3 linked regions of the Homo sapiens genome follow. The protein of the gene in region 1 purifies or fractionates together with the protein of each later gene. This does not show direct contact. Each region holds a gene or a part of one and is shown in the gene's direction. Other genes may lie near its edges.

Evidence for each region.
Region 2: the proteins of ELOVL5 (region 1) and CMKLR1 purify together in Homo sapiens (co-immunoprecipitation; one large-scale study listed by IntAct). This does not show direct contact.
Region 3: the proteins of ELOVL5 (region 1) and RRP36 purify together in Homo sapiens (affinity purification with mass spectrometry; one large-scale study listed by BioGRID and IntAct). This does not show direct contact.

What each region holds. Positions count from the first base shown.
Region 1 is NC_000006.12:53,279,348-53,283,003, reverse strand, and holds part of ELOVL5 (very long chain fatty acid elongase 5), read left to right. Parts: intron 1-3,656. UniProt on the Homo sapiens protein: Catalyzes the first and rate-limiting reaction of the four reactions that constitute the long-chain fatty acids elongation cycle.
Region 2 is NC_000012.12:108,290,915-108,294,453, reverse strand, and holds part of CMKLR1 (chemerin-like receptor 1), read left to right. Parts: intron 1-789; 5' UTR 790-862; coding exon 863-865; intron 866-1,494; coding exon 1,495-2,613; 3' UTR 2,614-3,539. UniProt on the Homo sapiens protein: Receptor for the chemoattractant adipokine chemerin/RARRES2 and for the omega-3 fatty acid derived molecule resolvin E1.
Region 3 is NC_000006.12:43,027,205-43,030,099, forward strand, and holds the end of RRP36 (ribosomal RNA processing protein 36 homolog), read left to right. Parts: coding exon 1-48; intron 49-155; coding exon 156-273; intron 274-1,887; coding exon 1,888-2,024; 3' UTR 2,025-2,395; downstream 2,396-2,895. UniProt on the Homo sapiens protein: Involved in the early processing steps of the pre-rRNA in the maturation pathway leading to the 18S rRNA.

The sequences.
Region 1 (3,656 bases):
GTTTGTGCTTTCTAACCTCTGTAATTGTGGGCTGTGAAAGCATCTCCCCAGGCTCTGGGTTTGAAGGCCATCTGATGGAACCACAGAGCAGTTGCTTTGGAAACATAATATTCTAAACTGGTTGTTTTTCTTTCCCTTCAGGCTTTCCTAAAATAGATACGTTATTGTGGGAAAATAGGATTTGGAAAAACACTTAAGCAACCTGGCAATTGATTATTGAATTTTATTTGAAAAATAACTTTGTTTACCAAAATACTTTGAAAAGGCTATTTGCTGTTCTTTTTCCCATTTAGCAGAGGTATAGAGCAGTTGAAACATCTGGTGAAATTAGTACTTACAAGAAATGCCTGATCATTGCCTAGAATACTTTTCACTCTTAGTTTCCTTACAACTAAAATTCCTTGCTGAGAAAGAAACTTCTCTCAGGGCCTGAAAGGAAACAGTTAGTTGTCCCTAGTGTATCTGACACTGCCCTGAGAGAATGCCTCACGGTAGGGAGAATGGAGAGAAGGATGCAGCTCAAACATCCTTCATTCCTCACCCACACCCAGGGGAGGGGAAGGGAATACTTTCTACAGAGAGGAAGCCTTCTGGCTTGTCCAGAGCCAGGCCTCACTCCTCTAAACTTGCCCCTGCAACACCTGGAGAGCTTGGCTCTGCAGCTGGTGTAGCTAGGAGCACATCACTCTACAGATCCTCAACTAAAGTGGACTTAACTCTGCAAAGCAGGCGTCAGTGGGTAGGCTGGAGACCTTCCTTTAAATGACACAAATTATACTTTGGCTGGGACATCCAGCACCACCTTAGCCCTAGTTGGAAGCAAAAGTACTTAACATTTGCCTAAGATCATAGCAAAGACAGATAGTGCCTACCTTATGTCAGGTATTGGGCTAACTAATCTAATGCTTATTGCACTCTTACCATCTGCTTTCTACAGAGGGAAAGTTCTGGGAGGCCTGAACAGGGAGAACTGCTAGCATAAGAGGGCAGGGCTTGAGGATTCAGGGAAAATGCCAGACATACCTGTTTCAGTTTGGATTGAGGACAGGCTGTTTCTTTGTGTTTTGTTTTAAAGACTTCTCAAGTGTACAGAACCTGTCTTTTTTAACTTAGCCAAGAGTGTTACGTTCAGCTATAACCCAGGGGTATTCCTGTTCACAAGGAGAAGGAAAAAAAAAAAACACCTGTGGAGGTCATGGGTGTGAAATTATCTTAATGGGCATCCTTATGCTCTGGACATGAAAGATTTGAAATGTAAAAACCACATGCTTTGACCTGGCACTCCCTAATAGCACTGCGAAAATTGGCCAACTAAACCCTAGAGGAAATAGGTACTTTCAATTTTGAGTAGTTCATGGTTAATTTTAAACCAAACATCTGCGGAAGAAAAAGATGCAGTTAAAGGTCTGCTTTTCCACAGAATTCTTCATGGACAGAGTATCCCTACCATGTTCTTACTAAGAATTCAAAAACAGATGAAGAAGGGCAAAGATGCTTGGAACTGCTGTTTGAGGTGCATTTGGACTGAGAGTCAGGATTCCTTTGTGCTAATCCCAGTGGTACCAAGACCTGGGCCATCCTTATCACTTCTCATTCCCTGTTTTCTCATTAAAAATACGAGCTTGTACCAGATCTAAAAAATACACAGTTGAGGACTCACACAGAAACAAAGCTATGAAGAGGGTCAACCCTACGTATTCTTGGAGATTTTGCTTAGAAAAGCACCTTAGGTCCTGTGATGTAGTTGAACTTGAGTATGGATAGTCTATTTTTCATTACTTTTTACCCCATTTCTGCATAGGAGGTAGTAAACATGCAGCTTCATCAAGCTCTTATCACCAGAAGCAGCCAGTCTTCTTTGGAAAGGGGTTATCTTGTTGCTCTGACATCTTGGGATGCTGATGTTAATGGCTGATAAGGGCCACCCAAGATGATGTTTTCCTCCTTTTTCTTTAAGTGTTTCCAGTGACCTTGTTTCCTGAGATGTTTCAGTAGCATTCCAGAAAGTGCCATGGAAATGGTTATTATGCTAAAGGTTACAAGTTGTTTGTGGTTAAATGTGTTATTAGATGGGAAAAGTCAACTCACCGTTAAAAATGATTCACTCCTGGCTGGGTGCAGGGGCTCACACCTGGAATCCCAGCACTTTGGGTGGCCAAGGCAAGCAGATCACTGGAGCTCAGGAGTTTAAGACCAGCCTGCGCAACATGGTGAAACCCCATCTTTACAACAAAAATATAAAAATTAGCCGGGCATGACAGCGTGCACCTGTAGTCTCAGCTACTTGGGAGGCTGAGGTAGGAGGATGGCTTGAGCCCAGGAAGTGGAGGTTGCAGTGAGCTGAGATTGTGCCACTGCACACCAGCCTGAGCAACACAGCCAGGCCCTGTCTCAAAGAAAAAAGATTCACTCCATGAATTATGTCATCCAGAACCAGGTGTGAAACTCACCTACATTTTTTTCTTTCATTGAAAAGGTGCATGAAACCATCAGGGTTATTGACTTTATCTCATATGGAGAAAAGAGCTTGTAGCTAGGTTTTAATTATAGCTCTGCACATCCTCTTGGCCTAATTAAAGTTTGCTTTACTCCAAGGAAGGAGGAAGTGTATAAAGCTTTGCAGTGGTACTGTTTGTATCTCAGTTCCTCAGAAAAAAGCCTGCAAATAATGCCCCTGGGTGGTTCTTGGAGTTGGCAGTGGTATGGAAAATTTCGTTAGGTAGTGGTTAGCTGTTTGTGATGGCCTGCTTTTTCATTATAGTATAGTCCTGTCCTCTTTCGATCTGATTCTCAGAAGCCCAAGGTAGACAGACACCTGCCCCTATTTTCAGTACTTCACCTTCTCCAGCCTACTGGGTCCTCTCACCCTGTGGTGTCTACTTAACACGCAACTTGAAGAATTTCTGGGAAATTGACCAAAACAGCTCTTTGGAAAGAAGCTAGGCCTCAGTCCCAAAGGGAAAGGTGGCTGATGTGACTTTGACTTGAGGATTGTCTCCTGTGATGTGCTCCTAGTGGGGCTACAGGGGTCAGTCCTTTGCTTTGAGCACCTCTGTAGTCCACTACCCATGGACACATTGCTATCCTCTGAGGGGGATGGAGGGAGTAGAGCCCTCTACTGCTAGCCCATTTTATGGAGGTTTGATGAGGGTCTTAGGTGAATAAGCTTCAACTCAGGTCCTTGGTCTTGGTTTGTTAAATTATTCTATCCTTTCTGAAGCCAGGGAGATTTGAGAATTTCCATGACCCCATTATGAAATTGATGATGAAGAGTTTTCATCTTGTGAACAGAGTTCAGATGAATATGATCACAAAGTCAAGCCTCGTTTAAAATACTATGAAGCTCTCTTTATTGCTGCACATGAAACATTAGGCCTAGATTTAGGGGAAAGAATTGGCAGTCTTGAACTCTTTGTCATTTGTTTAGCAAATATTTGTTTGACATCTCTGGTACGCTAATCCCTGTGCTGGAATATGTTGATGCAGATGCAGGAGCCACAGTCACCACCCTTCGAAATCTTACAGAAGAGCACACAACAGGCCCATTAACAAAGGGAGCATGTGAGCAAACAGCTACAGGTCACTGCAAGGTGAGGGTAGAGGAAGGAGAATAGACCTCAGGCTCTAGTGCTCAAGGGAGTAATCATGAAGAAAAT
Region 2 (3,539 bases), on another chromosome or scaffold:
CTCCAAGATCTTGCAAACTTGCAAACTCCTCAGAATATGTTTGTTCTTCCATAGACTGGAAAAATACTCAGCAAGATTGTTATGGGGCTTGTTTAAAGTGCCACTTAAGTTGTCTGCACAGCGGAGGCTCAGTGGATATATTTGTGTCTGTCTTCACACCAGACTGCTGTGGCTTCAGAGCCTGCATCTCATTCATGGTTCCCATAGGGCCCAGAGAATATCCAGCAAGAATGATGCTTCTTTCTCTGAGCCTCAGTCTCTCTATTTCTTAACACAAAAGGAATAACACCTGCCTGGAAAAGTCCCAAGGAAGACTAAATAACAAGAAAGAATAAAAGTTCTTGGCACATAGCAGGTACTCTGTGTGGGTCTTCTCCTGTTTTCTCTGTGCTCACACTTCCTAAAACAGTATTTTGTGGGTCCTGCCCTGGTAGTGGAGTTGAGTCCCGACCTGGTAGTGGATTGAGCCATCCATGTACCTCCTCTGTGTCTTCCTTTACTCATGCCCGACTCCAGCTGTCAGCTAGGGATGTGCTGGGAGAGGGGAGTGGTTAGAATGAAGAGTCCAGCACTTGACCTGGGAAGAGTCAGTTGACCTAGGTTCAAGGGGCTCCATCCCTTCCTGGCTGCATAACCTTGGCTGAATAACAGCCTTTCTGAACTTCTGCTTCCTTCTCTGTAAAATGGGAATAAGAACAACAGATCTTATTTCTGGCTGGGTCCACTCAACCCTCTGGTTCTTAGACCTGGATCCAATTGCTGCTTTTTTTTTTTTTTTTTTCCCTACAGGTGTTTCTAGCTGTGTACAGGGACTGATTGGCTGAGGACTCACATTGGAGAGCTGCAGACAACATAACGGTGAATGGTGAGGAAGTCTTGTGGTCTGAACTCCAAAGGGCACCAGTGACCACTGACAGATTGGGTGCACAGGGGGATCACAACAAGGCTGTCCACTTGGTTTTAGAAGCATGTTGGAATCAAGTTCACAGCACCATGTACCTCTTCTTCATTGCACTTAGCATTATTGCAATGTTCCCATTATTTGAGGGACTTTTTGATGAACAATTGTCTCCCCCACTAGGCTCTAGAGGAAGACAGGGCCCCAAGCAGACAGAAAACATGGTTGTCAAAAGGATAGACTCTGAAGCTTGGATTCAAATCACAGGTCTGCCTTTTCCTAGCTGTAGGACTTCAGGCAAATGACATAAGCTCTCTGTGACTCAGTTTCCTCATTTGTAAGTTGAGGCTCATAACCTACCTACCTCATTGAGTTACTGTGAAGATTAAGAGAGTGTAGAATGCAATAGTGCCTGGCATGTAGGAGGTACCAGAGAGGCATTTGTTCAATAAATAAAATAGCAAAGAAGGAAATGGTTAAATCACAAAACTGGACTTGCTCAGAGTCAGGGGGAACATTGTTGGTCTTGCTGGTATTGGTCAACCTCTTAAAGCCAACTCTAGGGTTCCTCTAATGGTCCCTGTCTTCTCTTGCAGAGAATGGAGGATGAAGATTACAACACTTCCATCAGTTACGGTGATGAATACCCTGATTATTTAGACTCCATTGTGGTTTTGGAGGACTTATCCCCCTTGGAAGCCAGGGTGACCAGGATCTTCCTGGTGGTGGTCTACAGCATCGTCTGCTTCCTCGGGATTCTGGGCAATGGTCTGGTGATCATCATTGCCACCTTCAAGATGAAGAAGACAGTGAACATGGTCTGGTTCCTCAACCTGGCAGTGGCAGATTTCCTGTTCAACGTCTTCCTCCCAATCCATATCACCTATGCCGCCATGGACTACCACTGGGTTTTCGGGACAGCCATGTGCAAGATCAGCAACTTCCTTCTCATCCACAACATGTTCACCAGCGTCTTCCTGCTGACCATCATCAGCTCTGACCGCTGCATCTCTGTGCTCCTCCCTGTCTGGTCCCAGAACCACCGCAGCGTTCGCCTGGCTTACATGGCCTGCATGGTCATCTGGGTCCTGGCTTTCTTCTTGAGTTCCCCATCTCTCGTCTTCCGGGACACAGCCAACCTGCATGGGAAAATATCCTGCTTCAACAACTTCAGCCTGTCCACACCTGGGTCTTCCTCGTGGCCCACTCACTCCCAAATGGACCCTGTGGGGTATAGCCGGCACATGGTGGTGACTGTCACCCGCTTCCTCTGTGGCTTCCTGGTCCCAGTCCTCATCATCACAGCTTGCTACCTCACCATCGTGTGCAAACTGCAGCGCAACCGCCTGGCCAAGACCAAGAAGCCCTTCAAGATTATTGTGACCATCATCATTACCTTCTTCCTCTGCTGGTGCCCCTACCACACACTCAACCTCCTAGAGCTCCACCACACTGCCATGCCTGGCTCTGTCTTCAGCCTGGGTTTGCCCCTGGCCACTGCCCTTGCCATTGCCAACAGCTGCATGAACCCCATTCTGTATGTTTTCATGGGTCAGGACTTCAAGAAGTTCAAGGTGGCCCTCTTCTCTCGCCTGGTCAATGCTCTAAGTGAAGATACAGGCCACTCTTCCTACCCCAGCCATAGAAGCTTTACCAAGATGTCATCAATGAATGAGAGGACTTCTATGAATGAGAGGGAGACCGGCATGCTTTGATCCTCACTGTGGAACCCCTCAATGGACTCTCTCAACCCAGGGACACCCAAGGATATGTCTTCTGAAGATCAAGGCAAGAACCTCTTTAGCATCCACCAATTTTCACTGCATTTTGCATGGGATGAACAGTGTTTTATGCTGGGAATCTAGGGCCTGGAACCCCTTTCTTCTAGTGGACAGAACATGCTGTGTTCCATACAGCCTTGGACTAGCAATTTATGCTTCTTGGGAGGCCAGCCTTGACTGACTCAAAGCAAAAAAGGAAGAATTCTCAAAAGCATTGCCATGAACTGGGATTGGCATAGGGCGGTGGGATTAAGCTGCCTATTGTGTGTGCCCCAGAAATGACACTCTCCAAGGTCCATTCCTGGTGTGAGCAGTGAGGGGGTCAGAGCAAACCCAGTGTGATGCAGATCACACTTGGCCCTTGTATATATATTATCAGTAGCTGGCCAGAAAACCCTACCTTCAAGTCACTGCTCTGTGTTAAAGTATGTGGAAATGCATAGGTGATCTGGGAGAGGAAGGTGACATATCAGCCCATGAACTCCATAGGCCATGAATTTGGCTTTCGGATCAGCTAGGAAGACAGAGAACTGGTCCTGAGAGGTCCTGTGGGCTCTTTGCAAGGGCAAGACAAGTGAGGGATGCAACGAGGACTTGAGATTTGGCAAAGAAATGAGAAAGGAGAAAAGAACCTTTAAAGGATGCAGGCATGGAGCAGCTCACCCTAGAACATCGCAGGCTGATGGTGCTTTAGGCTGGAGCTATTTGGGGCGTCAGGGTGGTGCCAGCCCCTGATCTCACCTTGCCCCTCTTACCTGGGGGTGGGGTTGTGGCAGGCATCTTCACCAGCAGCCCTCACCCCATCACAGGGATTTTTTTCTGCCTTTCCTAATCCACTCAGCTCTGGCTGGAGGTGCTTA
Region 3 (2,895 bases), about 10 Mb from region 1:
CTTTCAGGAGAGGAGCATGAGAAACTGCAGCAACTGCTTCAGCGAATGGTGAGTGGGTAATAATTGTGGTGGGTAATGAAAGCAATTAAAGGTGGGAGATATTCACAGATCTGAACAGATCCCTCCCGTTCACCCATCTCATCTTTGCTCCTCAGGAGCAGCAAGAAATGGCACAGCAGGAACGAAAGCAACAGCAGGAGCTGCACCTGGCCCTGAAGCAAGAACGTCGGGCTCAGGCCCAGCAGGGCCATCGGCCATACTTCCTGAAAAAATGTGAGTTGGGCACAACTGTTGCTAACAGGGACAGGGGTGCAGGGGCCATGGTGGTAGAGTCTTGTGTTGGGGTGTCCCTGATCCCCTTTAAGGAAGGCATGAAGGCTGGATCCCATGGTAACTTGGAGGAAAGTAGAAATAGTAGGGAGTTGTTTGTAACCAGTCTTGTATCCCTAATTAGATCATGGCAGGCATTGTCACCTTTATTTCTTGGTCTACACTCCCCACTTCCCAACCCCCCCCCCCCAACACACACACAGTGAGTTTTATCTCTTGGTCTACACTACACACACACACACACACACACACACACACACACACAAACACAGAGTCAGTTTTATCTCTTGGTCTACACACACACACACACACAATCAGTTTTATCTCTTGGTCTATACTACACACACACACAGAGTTTTATCTCTTGGTCTACACACACACACACACAATCAGTTTTGTTTCTTGGTCTACACTGCACACACACACATGCACACACGCTGGGCCAGGCACATAGGTGTTCATAGTTGGTTGAATTGAGTAGTACTGAGATCATATAAAAAGTCATCAGTTGGGCTGGGCACGGTGGCTCACGCCTATAATCCCAGCACTATGGGAGGCCAGTGTGGGGGGGTCACGAGGTCAGGAGTTCGAGACCAGCCTGGGGGCCAACATGGTGAAACCCTGTCTCTACTAAAGATATAAAAAAATTAGCCGGGCCTGGTGGCGTGCACCTGTAATCCAGCTACTCAGGAGGCTGAGGCAGGAGGATCACTTGAGCCCGGGAGGTGGAGGTTGCAGAAAGCCTAGATTGCACTGTTGTACTCCAGCCTGGGCAACAGCGTGAGACTCCATCTCACAGGAAAAACAAACAAACAAAAAAAAGTCACCAGTTGGGCCGGGCGCAGTGCCTCACACCTGTAATCCCAGCACTTTGGGAGGCCAAGGAGGGCAGATCACGAGGTCAGGAGTTCAAGACCAGCCTGGCAAACATGGTGAAACCCCGTCTCTACTAAAAATACAAAAATTAGCTGGGTGTGGTGCTGTGCATCTGTAATCCCAGCTACTCAGAAGGCTGAGGCAGGAGAATCGCTTGAATCTGGGAGGCGGAGGTTGCAGTGAGCTGAAATCGTGCCACAGCACTTCAGCCTGGGTGACAGAGTGAGACTCCATCTCAAAAAAAAAAAGTCACCCGTTGGCCAGGCGCAGTGGCTCACGCCTGTAATCCCAGCACTTTGGGAGGCTGAGGAGAGCGGATCACCTGAGGTCAGGAGTTCGAGACCAGCCTGGCCAACATGGCGTAACCCTGTTTCTACTAAAAATACAAAAAAATTAGCCATATGTGGTGGTGCGCGCCTGTAATCCCAGCTACTCCGGAGGCTGAGGCAGGAGAATCACTTGAATCTAGAAGACGGAGGTTGCAGTGAGCCGAGATCGCGTCACTGCACTCCAGCCTGGGTAACAGAGCAGGACTCCGTCTCAGAAAAAAGATAGAGGGGCACCAGTGAGCTTTAAAGAACTCATGTATCCAGCATAATGGCTTGGAGTTACTGACCTGGTTTGGGAAAGAATAGGGGCTTCCTTCTTTGTTCACCAACTTTCATTCTCCCTGTCATTTAGCTGAGCAGCGCCAGTTGGCACTAGCTGAGAAGTTCAAGGAGCTGAAACGCAGCAAGAAATTGGAGAACTTCTTGAGTCGAAAGAGGCGACGAAATGCAGGCAAGGACAGGAGACATCTCCCTTTGAGCAAAGAGTAATAAGGAACTATCCTCTGCTCTGCCACTGCCCCAGGGAGACATGGATCTGTGAGGACAGATTTGGCCACGGCTGGTTTCCGTTCAAGGGCAAGGATCACAGCTGCCCTTGAATCTCATTGCCTCAGAGAAGACTAGAGGGCTCTTGGACTATCCCTAGGGCTACACAAGAATAGTTCAGCCTTCTGCCATGCCACACAGCCTCAGCTTGAATCTGGTTCATTGCGTCCTCGTGTTCTTCTCTCATCCTTGCCTTAAACCAGGGATTCTGATACCGAAGAAGAGGGGCCAATGAAAACCATGGAGTCTGTTCGTGACTCCCAGGGCTGGGACATTATGTAGGAGCCACTTCATAAACATTCTCTTTACTCATCTTTTTATTCTGTTTTTTGTGGCCTTCTTTTTGTGTTTCCCCCCCGAAACAGAGTCTCGCTCTGTCACCCAGGCTAGAGTACAGTGGTGCAATCTCGCCTCACTGCAACCTCCACCTCCCAGGTTCAAGTGATTCTTGTGCCTCAGCCTCCCGAGTAGCTGACATCCGCCACCAAGCCCAGCTAATTTCTTTCGTATTTTTAGTAGAGATAGAGTTTTGCCATGTTGGCTAGTTTGATCTTAAACTCTTGGCCTCAAGTGATCTGCCTGCCTCAGACTCCCAAAGTGCTGGGATTACAGGCGTTGAGCCACCGTTCCGGCCTTAAGGCCTCTGCTTTTATGTGGGATTTGTGGGTAGCCTAGAACTACTTTTTAGTGGGCCACATATTGGGATAGGCAATAAAGCCTAAGGCATCTACAACTGGGAAGTCAGATCAGAAACCCCTCCCACTTAAATCTGGGCCCCTCAAGGATGACAAGATCATTTAGTGGGTGAACCAAT